2 linked regions of the Homo sapiens genome follow. The protein of the gene in region 1 purifies or fractionates together with the protein of each later gene. This does not show direct contact. Each region holds a gene or a part of one and is shown on either strand. Other genes may lie near its edges. The genes, in order: TCAIM and KGD4.

Evidence for each region.
Region 2: the proteins of TCAIM (region 1) and KGD4 purify together in Homo sapiens (affinity purification with mass spectrometry; one large-scale study listed by BioGRID and IntAct). This does not show direct contact.

Annotation. Positions count from the first base shown.
Region 1 is NC_000003.12:44,407,056-44,409,974, forward strand, and holds the end of TCAIM (T-cell activation inhibitor, mitochondrial), read left to right. Parts: intron 1-386; coding exon 387-627; 3' UTR 628-2,393; downstream 2,394-2,919. UniProt on the Homo sapiens protein: May regulate T-cell apoptosis.
Region 2 is NC_000005.10:69,223,961-69,227,787, forward strand, and holds part of KGD4 (alpha-ketoglutarate dehydrogenase component 4), read left to right. Parts: intron 1-2,377; coding exon 2,378-2,441; intron 2,442-3,827. UniProt on the Homo sapiens protein: Molecular adapter that is necessary to form a stable 2-oxoglutarate dehydrogenase enzyme complex (OGDHC). Enables the specific recruitment of E3 subunit to E2 subunit in the 2-oxoglutarate dehydrogenase complex (OGDHC).

The sequences.
Region 1 (2,919 bases):
ATTACTTCCCAAGGGTTAAACTTTAGGTGGGTCCTAAAACTAGGGGTTTTATATTCTTCATTTTCTCCTTCCTTCAGTCACTAACAGCTGCTAGGTAAGGCAATATAAGAGCTTTTTTAAATTTATGTTATTTTTAGCCCTTTACTGCTAAAAACATTAACAAATACTTTTAGAGATCCATGTGACAGTAACTCAAAAGATTTAACAATGATGGCTATTGGCGTGTCTTCCAAACGTATAATTTGGCCTTTGTGGGTGGCATTTTCAGTGTTGTGAGTGCACAGTTAGGGCCCCAACATGTAAGAATATATTTACATTGTGTGTTCTTTTGTTTGGTTATGACAATATTTGTTCTTATGACAATATTTTTATTTTCTATATAATAGGTTAAAGGTTATTGAAAATGAATTGATACAGGCATCAACAAAGAAATTTTCTTTGGAGAAGTTATATAAAGAGCCCAGCATTTCTAGTATACAAATGGTGGATTGTTGTAAGAGACTTCTAGAACAATCACTGCCTTACCTACATGGGATGCACCTCTGCATTTCACATTTTTACTCTGTTATGCAAGATGGAGACCTTTGTATTCCTTGGAATTGGAAGAATGGAGAAGCCATTAAGTAACACAGAAATCTGTTTTATTTTTTTAAGAGATAAGAAAGGAACTTAAATTAAAAATATTTAAATCCACAATTTGATATAACAGTATTATTTACATAAGAACAAAGTTTCTAACTGCTGCTTTAAAAGTAGACTTTTTTAAAAAAATTAATTTCTGCTAGGAGAGGTTTTATATGCCAGGCGTGGTGGCTCATGCCTGCGGTCCCAGCTACTTAGGGAGGCTAAGATAGGAGGATCACTTGAGCCCAGGAGGCCAAGGTTGCAGTGGGCCCAGATTGCACCATTGCCCTCCAGCCTGAGCAACAGAACAAGACCTTGTCTCAAAAAATAATAATGATAATTTAAAATAAATAAGTAACTAATAAAAAGATTTTATATCCCAGTCTTATGATGTTGGTTGGCAAGGCTAGATAAAAAGATGTTAGAATGAAAGAACATATTTTTAGTGATATGTAAATGAAGGATTCTACAATAGTCATATATTTTTATATGAATGAATGTTGGGTTGGGCTGGAGAGGTATGTGTGTGTAAATATAAAGGTCTCACATTCAGAGTATAGCTCTGAAATAATGGAACTCATGTCTACAATTCAACATGCATCTGTATAGTTACATCTCATGTAAATATACACAGACATATTTTGCAGCCAGTAATTGACAGTTAATGTCCAAAACAGGTGATTGATAGGTAACAGAAATTAGATAACCACCAATTTTGCCCAAGAGAAAGACTAGAAGGACTAAAAGCAGTTGAATGTATGGTACTGACATTGTCATAAGCAGTCTGATAACCAGTTTATTGAAACGTGTGCATTAACAGAGAATTTAATTTTAAACCCATAATTTCTCCTATCCATTAAAATATTATAATTGTTAGTAGTATGAAACCAACAGGAAATGTTTTTTAATCATTTAGTGAGGTGATTCATTTGTTTCATGGGCAAACACTATCCAGGAAAAGCCTTGCTTGCCTGTTTCCCAAAGAGCTCTAAGAAATAGAATCAAGTGTAAAATGGTTCAGACCATTCAGGATTTCTTGTCACTCTTCTCAACCACGATCTTCCTGTTATTACTGATGTTTGAAACCCTGTCATTAGCCCCGGCCTGGTTAAAGCCCCTCAGAGTCACCTCTCATTCATAGCAATAGAATTCAACCCCAAGTGGTTGATGGTGTCCCCAGCACAGCCGAGAGACCTGATCTCTGGATTCAGTGCTTTTAGCTCTTCGAGTTTACCCTAAGATACCTTCGGGCAATATTTTTAACCAACCCAAAAGCTCTTCAGGTCATTTCTGAAGAGGACAAGGTGAATCTTGGCTTGGAACACCATTTTTGGGCTCTTGCTACTGAATGAATCAGAAAGGAATTTTTTCTGAAGAGCATTAGAAAGTAAAAGAGATGTTAAAATAAGTTCTTGAAGTATGTTTTATATTTATCTAAAACACTGATTTTAAAAGTTTACATTCAAATGTGTATTCAAAAGAAGTACTGATTTGTAATTATTATAGTTTGTGTGTATCATCCCTTTTAACCGTGCCTAACAACTGTACTTAAATTTTGTTTTCTAGTGTAACAAATGTTTCCCATAAGATTTTCTAGAGCCAAATAATGGGAGTGAAAAATTCCTTAAGTGTTATATAAGAAAATATATTAGAAAATCAGCTTTGGATTATACGATTTCTAAAATATACTAATACAGAATCCTCAGTAATATGTTTTGAATTGGATTTTTTCTCAGAACTGTTACATAATAAATAATACATCAACCAGATAACTGTTTTTTTCTTGTTACCCAACTGTTATTAGTTTTGGAACTATTGCAGTATAATAGGAAATGAGAAGAAATTGGTACTTGTATATGCCTGTTTGACTTCCTTTCCCACTCTAACATGAAAGAGAAAATTCTGTCCCACCACTGAAAGCTGGCACAGGAGCAGGCCCCCCTCACTGTTTCTACAAAGTCTCAGGTGAGAAGTGGTCTCCAAAGGGACCTGAGCTCCAGCTCAGGGCTAGGCCTGTCCCAAGGGAGAAACAGGCCTGCACTCCCCTGCCCAGGCTGTCCTGGCAGGAAGGCATGTGTGTTTCCCTAGGACAGGTTCTTACCAGGCCCTACTTCCTCCTTTCTCTTAAAGGACTGCACCTCCAGGTGGCCTTCCTGAGCTAATGAGAGGGTAGTGGGCTTTCAGAAGTGGCCAGGTGGGACAAAAGGGACCAGGGCTGTCTCAAGGGCCAGCTCACCTTTGGCATCTCTTGGGAGTAAGTGTATATCCCAGATAGAGGTCCCTGGAGTTAACCCC
Region 2 (3,827 bases), on another chromosome or scaffold:
AGGCGGAGGTTGCAGTGAGCCATGATTGCGGCACTGTACTCCAGTCTGAGTGACACAGCAAGACTCTGTCTAAAAAAAAAAAAAAAAAAGTATTCCTATGGGTATAGGAAAAAGACTAAAATAAAGTGCTATCAAATGTTTTAATTTGGGCCGGGCATGGTGGCCCATGCCTGTAATCCCAGCACTTTGGGAAGCCGAAGCAGGTGGATCATTTGAGGTCAGGAGTTCAAGACCAGCCTGGGTAAAATGGGGAAACTCCATATCTACTAAAAATACAAAAATTAGCGGGGTGTGGTGGCGCAGGCCTGTAATCCTGGCTACTCAGGAGGCTGAGGCAGGAGAATTGCTTGAACCTGGGAGGCGGAGGTTGCAGTGAACAGAGATTACGCCACTACATTCCAGCCTGGGTGACAGAGGAGACTCCATCTCAAAAAAAAAAAAAGTCTTTTATTTGTTTTACGTGGGTCTTGGGATTATAGTGTTTTCTTCTTTGTGCTCTTCTGTGTTCTTCCAAATGTTTTACACAGAATTTGTGTTACTTTTGTAGTCAAAAAAAGTATTCTTTAATTTTCTAATTTTCAAAATGATTGTTTTTTCTTCCCTGTTAGGTATTAATATAGTAGGGAAATAACACTCAAAACAAGTCAGGAGGCCAGGTGCAGTGGTTCATGCCTGAAATCCTAGAACTTTGGGAGGCTAAGGCAAGAAGATTGCTTGTACCTAGGAGCAGGAGGCGGAGGTTGCGGTAAGGCCACATCATGCCAGTGCACTCCATCCTGGGCAACAAGCCAGACGCTGTCTCAACAAAAAATTTAAAAAGTCAGTAAATTTCTGCCGGGTGCGGTGGCTCACACCTGTAATCCCAGCACTTTAGGAGGCCAAGGTGGGCGGATCATGAGGTCAGGAGATTGAGACCACCTTGGCTAACACGGTGAAACCCCGTCTCTACTAAAAGTGAAAAAAACTAGCCGGGCGTGGTGGCACGTGCCTATAGTCCCAGCTACTCGGGAGGCTGGGGCAGGAGAATCGCTTGAACACAGGAGGTGGAGGTTCCAGTGAGCTGAGATCGTGCCGCTGCACTCCAGCCTGGGCGACAGAGTGAGACTCCGTCTGAAAAAAGAAAAAAAAAAAAAAGGCAGTAAATTTCCAGTGTTTTTTCTTTGAGATGGGGTCTCACTCTGTTGCCCAGGCTGGAGTGCAGTGGCAAGATCTGAGCTCACTGCAACCTCTGCCTCCTTGGTTCAAGTGATCCTCCCACCTCAGCCTCCCAAGTAGCTGGAACTACAGGCACATAGCACCACATTTTTTTTTTTTTTTTTTTTGAGACGGAGTCTCGCTCTGTGGTCAGACTGAAGTATGGTGGCACTATCTCTGCTCACTGCAACCTCTGCCTCCTGCGTTCAAGCGATTCTCCTGCCTCAGCCTCCTGAGTAGCTGGGATTACAGGTGTGCACTACCACCATGCCCTGCTAATTTTTGTATTTTTAGTAGATACGAGGTTTCACCCTGTTGGTCAGGCTGCTCTCGAACTCCTGACCTCGTGATCCACCTGCCTCAGCCTTCCAAAGTGCTGGGATTACAGGTGTGAGCCACCATGCTCAGCCACCTTTTTTTTTTTTTTTTTTTTTAAGATGGAGTCTCACTCTGTAGCCCAGGCTAGAGTGCAGTGGCACGATCTCAGCTCACTGCAACCTCTGCCTCCGGAGTCCCGGTTGGTTCAAGCAGTTCTCCTGCCTCAGCCTCCCAAGTAGCTAGGATTACAGGCACGCATCACCATGCCCAACTAATTTTTGTATTTTTAGTAGAGATGGGGTTTCACCATGTTGGCCAGGCTGGTCTTGAACTCCTGACCTCGTGATCCGTCCGCCTCGGCCTCCCAAAGTGTTGGGATTATAGGCGTGAGCCATCACACTGGGCCTTGTTTTTCTTTTTGTTTTTGTTTTAATTTTTGGTAGAGACGGGGTTTCACCATGTTGCCCAGGCTGGTCTCAAACTCCTGCACTCACGCAATCTGCCTGTCTGGGCCTCCCAAAATGTTGGGATTACAGGCATAAGCCACTGCACCCAGCCAGCTTTCATTCTTACCAATCTATAAGTCATGCAACATAAACTCTACATCATCTCCTCCATTGGGTTGCTTTGAAGTGAAGTACACCTTCGATAGTACAATGAAGTCTTGTGATATATAAAGTACAAAGTTGTGTTTACCGGGTAGACAAGTTAATAATTCATAGACCAGCTTTCCTGGTTGGGGAAGAGTATAATTTAAAGTTGCTGTAAAATAGTAATTTTAACAAACGTATCTACTTATGAGGTTTAGTAGATCATTTCTTTTAGTTAATGAGATTGTTTTTCATGCATATTACTTTTCATTTAGGTAGTCAAACCACACACTCCATTAATAAGGTTTCCTGACAGAAGAGACAATCCTAAACCCAATGGTGAGTTGTATTTTATTTAAATTTCTTTTAAAATTGTGTACATGAATATTTATAAATGAGTATTTTATTATAGGCAATATTTCTCATTTTAAAATCAGTTAAGACTATTGTAGCTTAGATCAAAATAGTGCCTTATGTAGCATGCAAGTAGAAATTAACTTATGGCTGGGAGCGGTGGCTCACGCCTGTCATCCCAGCACTTTGGGAGGCCGAGGCACGCGGATCACCTGAGGTCAGGAGTTCAAGACCAGCCTGGCCAACATGGTGAAACCCTGTCTCTACTAAAAAATACAAAAAATTAGCCAGGCGTGGTGGCGGGCTCCTATAGTCCCAGCTACTCGGGAGGCTGAGGCATAGAATTGCTTGAACCCACGAGGCGGAGGTTGCAGTGAGCTAAGATCATGCCACTGCACTCCAGCCTGGGTGACAGGGCAAGACTTTGTCTCAAAAAAAAAAAAAATTATTACCTCTATTTTATTTTATTTTTTGAGACAGGGTCTTGCTCTGTCGCCCAGGCTGGAGTGCAGTGGTGCTATCTTGGCACACTGCAGTCTCCCCCTCCCGGGTTAAAGCAATTCTCGTGCTTCAGCATCCTTAGTAGCTGGGATTACAGGCATACACTAGCACGCCTGGCTAATTTTTGTATTTTTAGTAGAGACAGGGTTTCACCATGTTGCCTAGGCTGGTCTCGACTCCTGATCTCAGGTGATCTGCCTGCCTCCGCCTCCCAAAGTGCTGGGATTACAGGCATGAGCCACTCACCTGGCCTTTATTACCCCTATTTTAAAAGGTAGTGACTCAACAGAAGATGTCTCTGAATTTCTAGTGAGTTTATATGGGCAAAATTTTGTCCTACCTTTATTCTCTCCTATCCTTTAGAAGATTCTCCCATGCTTACATTTGCAGAGACTGGGAAAATAATAACCATTCCTGTTTCTCTCCTCACCAACCATCTTTTCTTTCATTCATTCATTTATCTATTCATCTAGTCAGTAAATATTTTTTGGATTGCCTTAATCCTTAGCATTTATTCAAAATTAATGGGAGAAGATTCTGAAAGGGTTCTGTTTTTCTCTGATTCCCGCCCTTTTTTAAAAAAACCAGATCCTCTGTGCCTCTCTTGATCTTTAATTCAGGCAATTTTAACACATTTTATAGGTATATTTTTAACTTATTGTAACTATTGAAGAATTAAGATGTTTAAACAAGTGTAAAGATATTGAGAAAACTACCCTCATTTACATTTACTGACTTTCTTATTCCTTATTGTAAGATATTACCTGTAAACTCCACCATGTGTTGGCCTATGAGGGGTTATGTGACATAAGCTTAAGTAGTGTAGGTTCCCCTAAAGGGTTGAATTCCACTAACTAGAAATTTCATTAT